Homo sapiens: one gene and its partners. The protein of the gene in region 1 purifies or fractionates together with the protein of each later gene. This does not show direct contact. Each region holds a gene or a part of one and is shown on either strand. Other genes may lie near its edges.

Region 1 (4,554 bases):
CTGTGGCCCAAGAAAAGTCTCCTTACTTCATCTGTAAAGTAAGTAGTAATAACAGAATCACCCTCTGGGTTTTATGGGGGCTCAGTGGGTGCGATGCATGAGATACTTAAACAACACCTGCCACATATGTGTGGATACTCAAGGAATACTGAGCTTCCACAGTAGTTTTTGAATAAAGAGGAGCCAAAGGCTCTCTTTCCTCTTTTCTCTCTTCCTTTTTCCCCACCTAGTCTCTCCATTCTCCTTTCACCCCTTGGGGTGACTTCTTAGCCCTCTCCAAGATTCTCACTCTGGCCTGACACCCTCTTCCATTCCAGCCTATAGATCTGCCGCTGCTGCTGCCCTGCAGGGCCGTCCACATGTGTGTTTGTGCAATGCTCCTCCCCTATCCCAACCCACCTAAACTGAGCTTCCTCCACAGAGCTGTTTCAAATCCACATGGCCATTTCCTTTTCAGGAGAGTCTAGTATTTTATAACCGCCCTTCCCAAATCAGAACACAAGTAGACACATGTTCAGCTTTCCGTGTGTGAGAAATGGCCTCAAGGGTACAATTTTCTTGCGTGGTCCATGTTTCCACAGGGCCCCCTTTCTGACTTCTCCCCTGGGAGCCAGGAGAGCTGAGGAGCCGACAGAGATGGGGCACACACACTGGGAAGCCAAGCACGTTAGATTTACTAGGGTCATGTCTGCAGGTGAGGTAACAGCACACACATACAGAAATTCACGGGCAGAGATGCCACCGCAGCATCACCGTCAGACACCAAAGCAGCAGGAGGGCTCAGGAAGTGGCTTTGGAAAGTTCTCGTGAAAATCAAAGGGCAGCTTTGGTGCTCAGAGATTCAAACAGAAAACTATACAAAACCAACCCATAAATATATATATATATATAATATGTGTATATATATAAAATTGCAAAATAAAAGCCCAAGAAACTAACCACCGATCTGCACGTCAGTGGCTCAAAAAGTGTTAGCATAGAGAAAGGCAAAACCATCTGTGGGGGTGATGCATACTCAAGGGGGCCGGCATTTCAGTAGCAGAAAGAGTATTTACATGGAACCCCTATTTGAAACCTCACAATACTAGGAAAAGCTAAACACAGACAATGTATGTACAAGGGAAGACAGTAAGTACTCTTGCGTGACGATTGTCAGACACAGACATTTCACTGAAACCATCCATAGCTTTAGAGAACACTGCATTCTATCTAGACTGGGTTCCTGCTTGCCTGCACCCCAGCCAGGCGATCTCAGGCTCTGGACCGTATGTTCTCCCCCACCTGGCCTCTTCCCGGAGAGAGCAAACACTAAGATGTTGGTTGCAGCATAAATTGCAGGAATTTAAAGGTGGGGCAGTCCTTGGGTATCAATCAATCACCCACAAAGCAGGACCAACAGGTGTGAGGTGGAGTGGAAGTGTGGGGGTGGGGTTCCCTGAAATATATTCCCATTTTATAATGTGTTTCAAGTGTGGCCACTCTGCCCTTGGTCCAATTGCCATCCTCCTTCTGATTCACGTTAAAAGGGGAGATCTGGCCTTTGGGTTTTTAAACATTATACAAGATAATTTGCTGGGGGAGAGAAGAGTTTAGGGTCTTTCTACAGTTATTCTCCCACCACCCCCCAAACTCTTACGTTTTCTTTAAACTACCTAGAGATAAGCAATTTGCCGATCACAGCTGGCCTCAGTTCGGGACACAGTGGGTGAGGAGAGGAGCCCAGGACCTGACTCTACTAGAAAACTGCCAGTGCTTTCTCACACTGAGCCTCAGACTCCAGCTCTGCCTGAACCCCTTCCCTGCACCAATAATGATCATTTCTCCCCCATCTGCAGGCCCCAATTTCCCATAGCAATGACCCAACTTTTGGGAAAATCTAGAAGGTAAGTGGCACCAAACATCAATATAGCCAAACCTAATATCACCTAAGTATGAACCAATGCGACCCATTGTTTCTGTATACATAAGAACACTCCCAGCTGGAGATTCTTCCTAATTGTTCCTAAGATGAAAAGCCTACATTCTCAAGGGAATTGTCTCTATAAAAATGATGAAAGGTGTTCTCCACTAAGGGACACCCCACTGAAGTCCCCACACTGCTTCCCGGTGAGCGTGGCTGCTCATTGTGAGAGGTAAAGGGATGTTGGGCATTCCTTGGTGACCGAGCTCTACGTGTGGTCTCTCATTTATGACAGAAAGTGTGCCACATCTGAATAGGTTGGTTAGACGGGGCTTCTGGAAGTAATTACACTCCATGTACGCTTTCTTATGTTATGGTGCAAGTGGAAATGTGCACAGATAACCAATGTGCACATTTCATGAGTTTACAGTCACTACAGGCCTCTTACTTCTTGCATTAAACTATCCCTTTCAGAACAGATGTGAAACAGATGATAGGCTGCCTCACTGGCTTTTAGATTGTAGGGTGCCCTGTCCTTTCTGTGGGAGTGGAGAGCTTAAATTTAGCCTCTCCCTCATTTCTTTTCAGACTCTTTGAGTGCTAAGGTCTTAGAGTTCAACTGAGCTCCAGTGATGAGAGAGAATGTAAAAAGACCTGTTTCCTCTATGCTCAGTCAACTGCGACTGTGCCAACCAACTCTAGGGCTTCTGCTGACCTGCATGTGTAAAATGAGTAAGGGGTAAATGTTCTCTCATTTGTTCACTAGTCAAGAACTGATTACCCTTGTCCCAAAACTAGAACATAAAATTCACACAAAAGAAAAAACGTGTCAGCTGGCACAGTGGCTCATTCCTGTAATCCCAGCACTTTGGGAAGCCGAGGCAGGTGGATCACGAGGTCAGGAGTTCAAGACCAGCCTGGCCAACATGGTGAAACCCCGTCTCTACTAAAAATACAAAAATTAGCTGGGCAAGGTGGCGGGCTCCTGTAATTCCAGCTACTTGGGAGGCTGAGACAGAAGAATCGCTTGAAAAACCGGGAGGCAGAGGTTGCAGTGAGCTAAGATTGCACCACTGCACTCCAGCCTGGGCAACAAAGAGCAAAGCTCCGTCTAAAAAAAAAAAAAAAAAAAAAAAAAAAGAAAGAAAAAGAAAAAACATGTCATGCAGACCTATGCGTAGGCTGTGTGTTTACCCTCCACATACCTTCATGGAAAAATTGAAAATTATTTTTAGACTTTCAGAGGCGAATCATGCTGTTGGGCAAATGGTTCTTTCAAATCCATGGCAATCAAAGAAGTGGATTTATAGCATTTTCCCCCACACTAGCAGTAGCCCTGCTACAACAATGCCAAACATCTGAATGACTGTCTTGCCATGTCACCATGAGCAAGTGACGGTATCATCCACAGGGAATGGGATTCAAATTCAGTCTACATGGATCAGTGGCAGAGGGCAGTGCTTTACAGTGGGGTTCTTACTGTAAGAACTTACTGCTCTTCATCCAATTTCCCCCAAGTCCTTTAAAAAGAACTTATCTGTTCACAGAGGAAGAACCCTGTTTTAGTTATAGGAGAGTGGAGGGGGTCAACTGGCCAAAGTAGGACAGTTACTTGGGTTGCATGCAGGCCAGGAGGCTCTTAGGGAGTCCAGATCTGGGCTAGAAGGTGTCTCTTTCTGCAGTTTGGGAGGAAGGTCACATGGTATGGACGGTTCTCTCACACCACTGTTGGGTGCAGCCAACACTACGCAAGGAGCCGTTGGAGCCAAGCCTGTCTCTGCGAAACCACTAATCCTTCTTGTCCTCTCTCCTCCTGCCTGCCTTGCGATGGAAATAAGCTCAGAAACCTCTCCACTTCCCAGCTCAGCCAGCCACAGAGCAGCACATTGGTTCAAATGTTACCCTTTTCTCTGGCACATCCAAGCACAGTAGCTCAACCAGACATGAACCTACTGCCCACCAAATCTGAGCTCTTGAATACACATTTTCTCCAGTCAGATATTGGTCAAAGTTTTCAGCCAACTTTTATCCACAGCCAAAGAAAATGGCCTTTCCTTTCTAATAGCCTGTAGATTTGTTTGGACCACATGTCTGTTTCTGTAGCATTTGGTGCATGTCCTCAAGCCTGGAGCTAAATGTGCCACATTCTGTGCAAGGGAAGAAGAAATGGCAGGATGGCTGGACACCTCTCCCAGCAATTCTACACCAAGACAAAATAAAACTGGAAACATTAGCTCTTTGAATGCTCCCCTCTCCTTGTTGAAAATCCCTCTTAAGGTGCTTTATCCAAAGACTTTTATGGAAATAAATTTTGTGTTGGAAACTCACTATCTGCTGTAGAGGAAACATCGTGTAAAGCAGGCCATCAACTATGTTTTAGTATTGACATTTCAAAAAGGCCTCATAGCTCCCATGCCACCATCCCACGCCCATCCAGTCCACAGTCTCCATTCAGCCACCAAAGGGATTTTCCTAAAATGCAATTCTGATCATGACTCTATCCTGATTTAAAGGCTCCAGTGGCTCCAAACCCCTTCCATGACAAGTCTAGCTCCTCCACACTTCCTACCAGTTTCCTTAGGATTCAGCCCTGCCTACCTATGAAGGGACCCCTCAACCCCTGAGCTTCCACATCATGCTCTGGCAATGCCACG
Region 2 (7,806 bases), about 59 Mb from region 1:
CACTACAACAATGCCAGCCTGCGTTGCCTGGCAGCGTGAAGCGAGATGGGAAAAGTTGTTACGTGTCTTATTGGTGATGGCTGGACCATTCACAGTTCGTTGTTTTCACCCATCCATTCCTTAATTCATTTATTCACTCCATGTGCATATATATGAGTCCTCATTACATCACCTGTAAAATGGGCATAGTAATATTACCGTAAGCAAAAGGCTGTTTCAAGAATTAAGATAATCTCTATAAAGCGTGCTGCCTAGCACATAGTTAGTCCTTAAAATAATAGTTATAATTAAAAGAGTAATTACAAAAGCCACATGGTCAAAAGACAAAAATGGTCCTTTTCCAGCACTAGCTATGGGTGGAGAGGGTAAAGTTGCATCTGAAAGGTGAATTAATTCTTGAGGAAGAGGCAGATTCCTCAAATAAAAAACTGAAACTTGAGGAGATGGATCTCAGAGAAAAGAAGGAGGCCTGGACCCTCAGTCTGGGTGAGGAAGCATCAGGAGGGCTAGGAAGGCATTGCTGGGTAGTGGATGTCAAATAGACCATTGGGAATGAAGAGACAGAGAAAAGAAATTCATATGAAACGGAGTGGAGTTTCTAAGTTCTGCAGAGCAAGCTATGAACAGTTATGGTGCAATCCAAGCCTTATCCATTGATAGGCCAGCCTGGTTAAATGCCCTGTATTTTCCGTGTTTATTTTTCCATTGTTCTTCCTTACTATTGAACAAAAGTTTCTGTCCAAGTTCCTGCCTGTCTCAACTGTGCTCAGGACACACTGGGGACTCTGTTAGAAAGGAGCAGTCAACCCTGGCCCGAGTCGCGTGGCAACAGGAGTCACAGCAGGAGTTCCCTTGGAGACCAGCAAGCCCAGGGAACCCCCTTCCACAGCTAATTTGGGATGAGCTGAGCTGAGAATATTAGGAAACTGCCATTTCCTCATAACCTGTTGCAATTCCAGTATTCTGTGTGACCTAAAAACTGGGTTGGAAATCCTCCTTAACACAGATACAGAACCCAGAAGCTGTAGAGGACAATATCAACCGATTTGACCGCATAACAGGTAAAAAACAAAACTGAATGACAAGCAACAGACTGGAAAAAAATCTTCACAAACTGTAACATATTTTAATATATTCTATTATAATATAACAAAAAGGAATATCCAAAATACATAAGGAGCTCTTATAAATAATAAAAAGAGACAAAACTAATGGATAAAAGATATAAACAGGTAATTGCAGAAGAAATAGATAGACAAAATGCCTATCTTCAGTAGTAATTAAGGGAATACAAGTCAGAACAAGATGGCGTTTTTTGCCCATTTTATTGACAACAATTAAAAATATAATATTGAATACTGGGAAAGGTGAAGGGACATGGGCAGTTTCTTCTACTCACGCTGAGAATGTAAACGGGTAGCGTCTTTTTAAAGGCCAGGTTGAGGCCCGGCTCTGTGACTCACCCCTGTAATCCCAGCACTTTGGGAGGCTGAGGTGAGTGGATCGCTTGAGCTCAGGACTTAGAGAACAGCCTGGGCAACAAGGCAAAATCCTGTCTCTACAAAAAATACAAAAATTAGCCAGGCATGGTGTTGTGTGCTTGCAGTTCCAGCTACTCAGGAGGCTGAAGTGGGAGGACTGCTGGAGCCCTAGAGGTGGAGGTTGCAGTGAGCCAAGATCTCTCGTGCCACTGCACTCCAGCCTGAAGGACAGAATGTAAACCTGCCTCCAATAAATAAATAAATAACAGGTTGGCAGCATCTGTATTTACAGTATGCCTACCCTTTGTTATGACAATTCCACTTTTAGGAATCTATACTATTCAAATATGAGGATACGAGGATGTCAATGGATCATTTTAACAGTGAGAAAATATTAATAATATCTAGCATTGATTGAGGGCCAGCACATTTCTAAGCACTTTATAACAAATATTGTGAGGACCCCGAGACACAGAGGAGTTAGGTAACTTGCTCAGGGTCACATGGCAAGTGTGTGTTTGGGGCAGGATTTTGGCAATTGTTTCTTAACCACTATGCTCTCGAATAGAGAATAATTACAGTGTGGCACATCCAAACTGGGGAGTAGAGGACAGCAGGTAAGCGGAATGAAGCAGATCTCTGCCTATAGACATGGACACGCCTCTAGGACATATTAGTAATGAAGGGAAAAAACCAAGTTGCCAAACACCATGATATGGTATAATTTCATGTCTGTGGGGAAAAGGTAACATGTATCTATAATACATATGTATGAGAATGGCCAAAGGCCTTGAGTGATATAAGAATGTATGTGGAAATATAGTCAGAACAGTAAATTTTAGATTATGTTCCATATATTTCTGGTTCGTTTGAACTTTTACAAGAATGCATTTGTGCATTACTTTTGAAAACAAGAATTGTTGTACTAACCTCCTCCTTACCCTTACCCCATCCTGCAAAAAGGTTTAACTCATATCAACAGATTCATTTTCTCTTCTTCCAGGTAGACAATGGGATAGGTCTTGGGTAAAAATCTTCTGTACCATGGCTTTTTCTGGTCTATATAAATAAGTATATGTAGAACATGCCCAGGATATATATCTTGTTGATCACTACTCTTAAAATAAGGTTTTCATGTTCGGTATTTGGACCATGGCTTCCTGTTATTCCACCAAGCTACATACAAATATACAACCAGTCAAAATTAATTTGGAAACTGAGAACCACAGTGTTTTTTTTTTTTTTTTTTTGAGACAATCTCACTCTGTTGCCCAGGCTGGAGTGCAGCGGTGTGATCACAGCTCACTGCAGCCTTGGCCTCCTGGGCTCAATGGAGGAGGCCTCCAACTCAGCCTCAGGGGGAGCTGGGACTACAGGCACAGGCCACCACGCCCCGCTAGACAGAGTGCTCCTTTTGCCTTGCATATTATTTTGTCATCAGAAAAATAATCCATAATCATAGATTATCTCATTATTTTGCTCCAATGCATAAGTGGGAGTGTCTAGCTCCCTCTGTTCTCCTGGTGGCCTCTGTGGAGGTCTGAATGAGTAGCTCAATACACAGACTTAAAGGACTCTCTGGATGTGAAGTCAGTGTTACTATCTGAAAGGGAAAAGCTGCATTGGATGGATCATCGGGGCCTCTTCCTGCATGAGTCCAGCTAGGGGTGGTTTTAACTAACCTAAAACCAAAGAAGAGGCTCCAACTAATCCAATGGTTTGGATCAAAATGCAACTTTTACAGGGCTGGGGCTTCACCCTATCTTCGGGTTTATCTCTGACATGCCAGGGAGACAGTTCTTAACATTCTTATTACTTAATGGATATCAGATTGTTGCTTTTCGGAGTGGTTTTTCCATTTTTTGAAATTTAATTTGTTCTTAAGTATCTTTACAGAAAAAAATCCCATTTATTTAAGAAGTACTGTATTCTCTGGTTCTTATAGCTGCTCATTTTACATAGTTTTAGTGTGTACAAACGATTTTTTTTGTTTCATTTATTTCTAATATACCTTCTCATGTACTTGCCAAAATTTCATGTTTGACACAGTCTGCATACCTGCCAGGATTCTTGCTGTTAATGTGAAGGCGCCTGTTTGGGTTACTCAATTGTTGGACAACTGGGCCCATTCCCAGGTTTTGGTCATCACGAACATTGTGAATAGCCCTGCTGTTAACATCTTTCTGCAAGTTCTCCCCCTTCTTCGCCCTTTGGATCATTTCCTTGGAAATGTACTTCCTTAAATGGGTTTACTGGGTCAAAGGGGCTCTATGAACGGTTTTATAGCTCTTGGCACATAATTTTCGGATTGCGCCCTGGGCGGATCTAAGCGATGGCACCGGCCGCCGAGAGGGCAGGAATGCGGCGGAACGGTCCCGATAACCACCCCTCTTCCGCCCCCCAAAAGGAGAAGACCCCGCGAAGGCCTGCGGCTGGAAAGCCTTTTTCCGGTGCTCTCCCGTTCTCTTGAAGTGGTTAGTGTCTAAGCCGGGCAGAAACGCTTTCAGGATCCCAGGCCCTCCTGCCCCAGGACTAGGATTCCACCCGCCTCCGCTAATTCGGAATCCCAGACACCCAGGGCCCCCTCTCAGGCTCGCCTCGAAACCCCCGGCCCTGCGGCCCCTCGCGGGCGCCGAGCTCGGTCGCTATTATTTGGGCGCGGGTGAGGCGAGGCCCGCATAGCTGCGCGCTGAGTCAGCGGGGGCCGCGGCGGGGGGCGCGGCCGGGCTCCCCCCCAGCGCACGGTGCGCTGGGCCCGGCGTCTGGGGTTCCGCCTCGGGGCCGCGGGGTAGTCCGCGGGGTCCGGCGGGAGGGGCAGGGGGCGCGCGGAAGGACCCGGCCTGGGTGCGTCTCCCCTCCCCCAGCAGGAGCTCGGCCGTGACCGCGCGCCCGGCTATTCGCCTCAGAGAACCTCGCCAGGGGGAGGAGGCGAGGGCGGGCGAGGAAGGGGCGCAGAGGAGAAAGCGGAGCGGGACAGACGCAGGAAGGGAAAGAAAGGGAGGAAGCGCGGTGCGCGGGGCGGGGCGGGGCGGAGCGCGCGCAGGGCCGGCGGGGACGCGCGCCGGCGGCTGCGGGCGGAGGGGCTTGTGGGTAGCGGCGGCGCGCGGCCGGAGACGGGCGGCCGCGCGGGAGTGTGTGCGCCGGGAGCTGGCTGAGGGACTGCAAGGCGGCCGGCGGCGACCATGGCAGCGGGCCGGCGGCGGCCGTAGTGGCCCAGGCCTGGGCTTCAGCCTCCCGGGGCCCCAGAGGGCGGGGCGGTCCGGGCCGCGGCGGTGGCGGCGCCACTTCCCTGCTCCCGCCCGAGGACTCCTGCGGGCACTCGCTGAGGACCAGCGGACCGGCGGCGCGAATCTGACTGAGGGGCGGGGACGCCGTCTGTTCCCCGCCGCTCCCGGCAGGGCCGGGCCGGGCTGGGCCGGGCTGGGCCGGGCGGGCCCCTGGGAGCAGCCCCCAGGCGGGGGACCGCCTTGGAGACCCGAAGCCGGAGCTAGAGGCAGGCGGTGGGCCCGGGTGGAGTCCCGGCCGGAGCTGGTGGTTCGGGGGCGGTGCTAGGCCCCGAGGCTGCGGGACCTGAGCGCGAGGAGCCTGAGTGCGGGTCCAGCGGTGGCGGCATGAGCCGGCCCCCGCCGACGGGGAAAATGCCCGGCGCCCCCGAGACCGCGCCGGGGGACGGGGCAGGCGCGAGCCGCCAGAGGAAGCTGGAGGCGCTGATCCGAGACCCTCGCTCCCCCATCAACGTGGAGAGCTTGCTGGTAGGTGGCCGGGGCCTGGGAGCTTGCTCGTTGCAGCTCACACCTCAGATCCCCTCTCCGCCCAGCCCTCCGTGCCCGTCCGCCCGTGGGGAGGGGGAGGTCTTGCCCCACCCCGCCCTGCTTCCGGCAGCCGGGGCCGGAGACCAAACGATTCTGTCACCGAGTTCCAAGAGTAGTGACCCGCCTTTGATTCCTCCCTCTACCTCCTGCTGGAGCCAGTGTCATCCCCGGCTGCTCCTTTCTTGCAGCACTGGGAGGAAAACACCCCTCTTCTCCTTCCGCCTGCCCACTCTGGGGAGGTGGGTGGAGGACTGGCCATGCTTCATACACCAGGTTAGCTGATTTGAAAGTGTCATGCTACGTGGGGACTTGGTGCGAGCGAGGGAGAAAGAAACCTGATGCTGTCCCTGTTGCGAGTACTCACTGGGGTACATGACAAAGAGCCGCCCTCACTCTCTCCTTTTAGTCTGAAATCTTGGAACACACAGCTAAAGTTTTGCTGTTTTCACTTGCGTTTGAGCATTCCATACTTGCTATTTAGTGCATTTTAATTGCTGTAAATTTAATTCCCTGAGATTATTGCGCCAGAGCCAAAAAATCAGTCTGAATTGTGGAGTGGAATAAATCTGTCCTCTTCATTGCGTCTCTTTCCTATAACGACCTTTGAAATCCAGATTAATAGCACCGTAAAGGCTGCTAATTGGCTCTTGGTTAAGAAAGGAGCATGTTTTACAAAATAGAAATGCACCGTAGAATGCTGGCTTATTTCTTATTTTTGTTAGGATAGATGATTGTATTTCGCAATTTGAGTAGTGTGCAGTGTAGATGCATTTATGGGAAAAGGGGGTGTGGACTTTTACCCTGGGGAGGGGAAGAAAGGTGAAAACGATACTCTGTGTATTAAATTGACTCTGGAAGACTAGAACTAGGGTGGGAGGTCCTTAGATCCGTTAGACATTCTGTGCTGGAATGCAGATGTTTAGTTCTATTCCCTCCTGGAATAAACCTTACTGTATGATGAGAAAAACTGCCTCCTCCCTTTCCAGGGACGGACGGACTGGCTTTTGGTCAGAGGCGGTTGGTTATCCTTTGAGGTTTCAGGCATCGTTTGCAGAGTGACTCAGTCCTGTTTGGTCAAAATGCAGGAACTGACTTTAGCTATATAGTGTCTTTCTGCACAGTGTACAGAAAGTAATGAATGATGTGCTATATTGTGTCACATGTGTTTGATGTTTTACTGTTTTTCGGGTTAATGTGTTGTTCCTATGTTTTAATGGGAGCAGTCTTTGAAAGTCTTTAATCGGGAGTAAGATTGCTTGCATGGATGGCATAGCTTTTCCTAGGCTAAAGCGGAGACTCTGGGCTGCACTCCCAGCATTTTCACTTTGGTATTTTGCTAGCAAAACTTTGACCTAAGGCCAGAAAGTTTAGTTAAAAATAGTACAGCAAATCTCAAGTATTCATCAGGTTCATGCTAAATCCTAGATGGAAACGTTTTGCAATTCACTTTGATATCTTAGATCTTTAATGATATTAATCATAATTATTAGAGTTATTCTGAGCTTGAATGTAAGTAGCTTATACATGTAATATGATCATGCATTTTGTTTTATTGCTTTCCAAATTATTAAAATGGAGGCTATTTTTAAAAGTGAAACATCTCACATGTTCAGGACACAGTTCATTCATTTAGCAGTTATTACAGCCAAAACACACTTTTATTAAGGTGGCACATTACGGATCTGAGAATTGACATCAGGTGCTGATGACTTGACAGACTCTGTTATTGCTGTTTCTAGTTGGTTAAATATGCTTGAGGTGCAGTAAACCTTTCCAAGCCAAAATGCGTCCCTTATTCCTTTGGAGCAAGGTTCCTGGTGTTTCTGTTACAAATTGATAAACGAAATTTAAAAATTTTTTTATAATAAATTAATTTTAAATTACGCGTATTTTATTTATGAACTACTAGAATGGATTTTTTATTGTGGTAGCGTATACAGAATTTACCATTTTTAACCATTTTTAAGTGTACAGGTTAGTGGCAGGCATTAAATACATTCACATTGTTGTGCAGCCATCACCACTATCCGTCTCTGGAATCTTTTCATTTTTCCAAACTGAAACTGTAAATTAATGTTTAAAAGAATGTTATAAAAATTATATTTCCTGAAATACTGACGAAATAATGGCTGGTATCACTTTAAAGATCTGAAACCTTAGCATTTAGGTTGCATTTCACTATTGGTCATTGTTTTACTGCCTATGACATTTATTTTTTGGTTTTGCCATGGGAAATACATATTTTGTCTTTAACAGAAAATTTAAAGGAATATAATTTAAAGCAAACACAGCTGCGACACTACATTCAGGAGCTCAGAAAGTACCATTAAAAATAGTATATACCTAAGATGACAAAAGAAGATGAAGTACACCAGAAATGATTGTATGATGCTTTCAGTGGGCTAGGCCTAGAAGGTAAAACTCTGTAGGAAACAAAGTTTTATGAGATAACGTGTAAAGTGCTTAGCCTAGTGCTTGGTACATCACAGTGCTCATTAAATTTAGTTCACTTC
Region 3 (5,072 bases), on another chromosome or scaffold:
TAATTTTCATGTAGGAAATTTATCAATCTATTTGAAATAGAAAGCTATATTTAAAATATATTTTGCTAAATACAGCAATATTTAGCAAAATGTTTCTAAACTTCCAGATTTTACTTAGAAATGATTTTACTTAGAAACAATTTCCCCTATTCTAATTCTTAATTCCAACAAATTAGAAATATAAAGTACATTTATAGGCATCACTTACCATAGCAGAGTCAGCAGTCATCTAGAGGAAAATAATTGCTTAGAAAAAGTATTAAATTTCATCTTATGTAGTTTGTAATCTTGTAATGACCTGAAAAGAGTTACCTGCAATAATTGTTTGACAACATAATAAAAAAAAGTTTCAGAATTTTAGTGTGAAAGAGCTATTTGTAAAAATCATGTAATTTATAACTATTTCGTGGACAATATATACATGAGATAAGATATAAAGTGTTTGCATAGTGTTTAACCAGTATTAGGTATTGGATATTTTTAGATGGTATCATTATTTTTAAAATGTAACTGACAAATTTGTACCTTAAAAAAACGAAAAGTTTATTGTTGGCATTTTGATATTCTATATGTGGTCATGTACTTTAAAAAAATTGTTTTCTTCAATTACAGTCTAGTTTTAGGCTTCTGCTTTCTGATTATTTGCATTGGGTTTCTGTCCAAAGTGATTTCCAGATGTTTGAACCATTCAGGACACAAAGTGTCCCGGGCATGTTCATCAGCAACTTGTTCTTTTGCTCCATTTCATTAGGAGAGACAATAGAAGATGCTGTTAGGAGAGAAGTAGAAGAGGAAAGTGGAGTCAAAGTTGGCCATGTTCAGTATGTTGCTTGTCAACCATGGCCAATGCCTTCCTCCTTAATGATTGGTTGCTTAGCTCTAGCAGTGTCTACAGAAATTAAAGTTGACAAGAATGAAATAGAGGATGCCCGCTGGTTCACTAGAGAACAGGTAAAGTTCAATTTAATTTCCTTCTTCTATTGATTGTTCCCTGACTGTATTGGTTTGGTCACAGAGCAAGGATGCATATTTTCAGCAAGTTGAATGATGCCTTTGGCCCTCTCATTATGCATGGATTACATGGTAATTAGTAATTCCATACAGGAGGAGTATGTTTCACTAATGTGATCTATATTAACTTATTCTATGAGATTTTTCTAGTAGAGATGATTCTGTACCATTTCGAGTTTCAGATTCCATTCCTTCACATAAATAATAATACCTATCAGTGGGTTTAGAAAAACATTAATTCATAGATGAGAAACAGGAATATTCTTATACATTTTATATTTTAGTTTATAACATTAAAACAAGTAGCTCTCAAAAAACATCAGTAAGTGCTTAAAATTTTCAGAAAGTTTTTATTCATTTTAAAATGTACTTAAGGACAAGAATGACATAACTGTATAATAAACATACACTTAAAATAACTTTCTAAAATGTCATTCCTAAATAATATATTAAAAGATAAATTACTCATCTGACCTGAAATTCTTTCTGACTTTGCCTGCATAAAATTAATTTTATTCTATGCTTAATCCTAAAAGATGGAAATTAGATTATTGCTTATGAATTTTATAAAAAAGAATCTGTTTCAAAAGTTGGCTTTGCTTAGAAATTAAGTGTGGAGCGTACATTTTGCTTTTTCGTGATGTCATTTTCATAAGGGAATGTGTCTTTCTGGAACATTTTAGAAACTGAATCACTTACTCAGTGAAGCAATTAAAAATGCTGTCCTAAATTTTGCATGTTGAGGCGGGGCGTGGTGGCTTATACCTGTAATCCCAGAACTTTGGAAGGCCAAGGCAGGAAGCTTGATTGAGCCCAGGAGTTTGAGACTAGCCTGGGCAACATAGGGAGACCCTGTCTCTACAGATAATTTTTAAAAAGTTAGCCAGGTGCACCTATGGTACCAGCTACTTGGGAGGCTGTGGCAGGAGGATCGCCTGAGCCCAGGAAGTCAAAGCTGCAATGAGCCATGATCCCACCACTGCAACTCCAGTCTGGGTGGCAGAGTGCAAGACCTTGTTTCCAAAAAAAAAAAAACTTTGCATGTAAATATGGATGTTGTCACTTTCTACTGTTGTTATTCACTGTAAAACTCATCACATTTTAATTGAATTATGTAAACATGGGAATAGTATTTAAATATGACAGCTTTGAAATCCTAATGCATTCTATTATGGTGTGTTTTAGGTCCTGGATGTTCTGACCAAAGGGAAGCAGCAGGCATTCTTTGTGCCACCAAGCCGAGCTATTGCACATCAATTAATCAAACACTGGATTAGAATAAATCCTAATCTCTAAATCTAAGAACTAAGCTTTGAGTATTATTTAATAATTTCTAATAACACTCATTCCTCAAGTGATATTAGAGATTATTCAGTACTCTTGAGAGTGTCACAACACAAAATACGATGTTGGGTTTTCGAAATATTTTCAAAGTGTTCTGTCTTAATCACAAATTCATATTTTTACACATTTTTACAATATTGCCTCAGATTATGTTAAATTTGGGTCAGTCTTCTCTGAACTTTTTCTCTCTTGGTTTCTTTTCTTCCTTCACAGTTTTATCTCACAAAACCATTTTTCTAATAAGAGACATCATGTTGGAAAGATGTTCTAGAAATGTGCATAAATTTCAGTGCCTCTTGTAAGCATTAAACTGATGATGAAGAAAGTTCCTGATTTGAGAAATGAATCAAAGTAATTTTAATGAATTTTTAGCTTGTATTAGCTTGAGTTAGCTGGCATTGATTTTTTAGTCCTTTTGTTACCTTTAAGTTGTCAATATATGGTTTTTGTTCATCTCCCCATTGTAGTCCCACTTGCTCTTTCCTGGGGGTTCCATTGTTCTAGCAGTGGAGGTGTTATAGTGTCGCCACTCGTCTAATTTGACCAGTGTTAAGAATTTTCTAATTTAATAATTTAATAGTGATCTCAATACCACACCCTCATGGAAGGAGAAAAGCATACTATTATATCTGGGACCTCTCTTTTAGACCTAAAATTAATTAACATATCTACTTATATGTTACTTATACCTAAAGCTGTTATTAAGACAAACCAAGATTCTCTGCTTTTGCACTGAAATTAAACTTGAAAGGAATTCTCCTCAAAGGTCGGATATTAAATAAGTCCCAGGCAGATTTACATATTTAATTTAAAACATTGGCTTTATTTCATTTTGTGATGAGTGATGTATCTGTGTTAACAAAAAATTGTATAATCATTACCAATACTATTTATTATGCTCAAATATATCTTGGCTTTGACCTTATTTCAACACATTCTAAGAAGCCTTGACAAAGTAAGTATATTTTAGAGCTGAATCAGTAAGATTCTAGAGAAAGCAAAACATAGTAGTTCACAATTTTGCAACATAGAAAGTCACATTTTGAAAGGCTATTTTGAAATTGATTTAATAGCTATTATAGTTTATGAATATCAAAATTTGTATAATTTGCATCTTTACTAATGTATGCTAGAGCTACAAGAGACCTTAAGGATAATATATGAAATTAGCTTTCCTTATTTTATAGATAAGGAAAAAGAAATTGTGAAAGGTGAATTTACCTAATTAGTGAAAGTTACATAACTAATTACAACAGTCTGTACTATATAATGCAGAGGACGATTCTCCCTGTAAAAGGAACTAGAAGCTATTACTAAAAATATATATAGACAAAATTAAAAGAAGGAATGATAAGAATAAATTTAATTTACCAAATATTGTTAATTAAAATTTTAGATACTTAACATTTATTTAACTTAAATAAAAGATAACTGTCAGATAAAACTTTATTTTACTAATGAGCAGTGATTTTCTTAGGAATTGATGAAGGCTTATTGGTATCAAGAATTTAAACCAAATTAAAACTGACAGAGGACATTTAGATACATAATAAAATTCGAGCTACATAAGTATATGGAAAATAATGTACCTTGATTATTATGAAATAGAGCATCTTGAAATTCAGTTTTACTCTAAATGTACTTTTAATACTTGCAGATTCTAAGATTACATTGTAAAATTCCAGGTTTTCATAATGTTAAAATAGGAAAGTAGAATATAAAGTATCAACAAGTGTAGTTATACATTTTGTTTTGGATATTTAATCCTTACTTGGGAAAAAATCAGCATCTAGGTAAATTATTATTTTAATAACAACTCTTAAATTGCCAACCTCTGAGAGGTGAAAAGCTATGTAAATAGAAGGAATGGCCAGTTCAAAAGAATAGTAGATGTGATAGTGCCGTGAATGTATTCTACTGGAAATGAATGTAATAATACATTAAATTTTTAAAATCTATTTTGTTTTGTGTGTGTGTTTAACATGTTTTGACAAGTGTCCTGAAAAATGAGAAAAGCTGGATTTCAGTCGTTAACCTGTTTCGAATTGATAATGTACAAGAAATGCAAAAGCCTTTTTAAAAGTGTCTGTGTTTGGGAGACTTAAAACTTTGATTTGAATCTTAAAGTATAGTTTGGGGTCAAATACAAACAGACTTACATATATACATACATATATAAAGTCAATAATTTTTGTTCTTCAGGTTTAAAGCGATATATCTAATTTTTATTACTTGTCTAATACTGCTAATTGTTGGATTTTGATATTTTCACATGTTGATGGAACATGAAGAGTTAGAAGCCCACATATTTTATTTAGTTGGAAAAATGAGAAATTCTTTTAAAGACCCAGTTAGGGATTTGGCTGAAGACAGAAAATAATAGGATAACAAAGGGAGAGACCAAGATGGAAGGAGGAAGAATAAGTTTGTTAATAAGCCAAATTAATCCCACATAACAACAATAGATAGCTGGTCCTGGAACTGTGTTGCTAATGTGGATACAACAAAATATTAGGTGAAGATGTTCTATAAAACAAATCCATTAATTATTTAGAGTAAAATTTTCACAGTGAAAATTTTATTAGGGCTGAGACCCAGTTATTAGGTTCTGGGGGGGGGGAGGGAGGGGGAGAAAGAGAGAGAGAGAGAGATGGGTGGTGGGTATTGAGTGAAATTTGTGTATTTGTTGAGGTTAAAAGGGGCTGTTATCTCTATTA

The links.
Region 2: the proteins of ADD2 (region 1) and ROCK2 purify together in Homo sapiens (affinity purification with mass spectrometry; 2 studies listed by BioGRID and IntAct, with this or other methods). This does not show direct contact.
Region 3: the proteins of ADD2 (region 1) and NUDT12 purify together in Homo sapiens (affinity purification with mass spectrometry; 2 studies listed by BioGRID and IntAct, with this or other methods). This does not show direct contact.

Annotation. Positions count from the first base shown.
Region 1 is NC_000002.12:70,656,133-70,660,686, forward strand, and holds the end of ADD2 (beta-adducin), read right to left. Parts: 3' UTR 652-4,554; downstream 1-651. UniProt on the Homo sapiens protein: Membrane-cytoskeleton-associated protein that promotes the assembly of the spectrin-actin network. Binds to the erythrocyte membrane receptor SLC2A1/GLUT1 and may therefore provide a link between the spectrin cytoskeleton to the plasma membrane.
Region 2 is NC_000002.12:11,341,423-11,349,228, reverse strand, and holds the start of ROCK2 (rho-associated protein kinase 2), read left to right. Parts: upstream 1-4,592; 5' UTR 4,593-5,092; coding exon 5,093-5,233; intron 5,234-7,806. UniProt on the Homo sapiens protein: Protein kinase which is a key regulator of actin cytoskeleton and cell polarity.
Region 3 is NC_000005.10:103,548,096-103,553,167, reverse strand, and holds the end of NUDT12 (NAD-capped RNA hydrolase NUDT12), read left to right. Parts: intron 1-751; coding exon 752-951; intron 952-2,196; coding exon 2,197-2,307; 3' UTR 2,308-4,313; downstream 4,314-5,072. UniProt on the Homo sapiens protein: mRNA decapping enzyme that specifically removes the nicotinamide adenine dinucleotide (NAD) cap from a subset of mRNAs by hydrolyzing the diphosphate linkage to produce nicotinamide mononucleotide (NMN) and 5' monophosphate mRNA.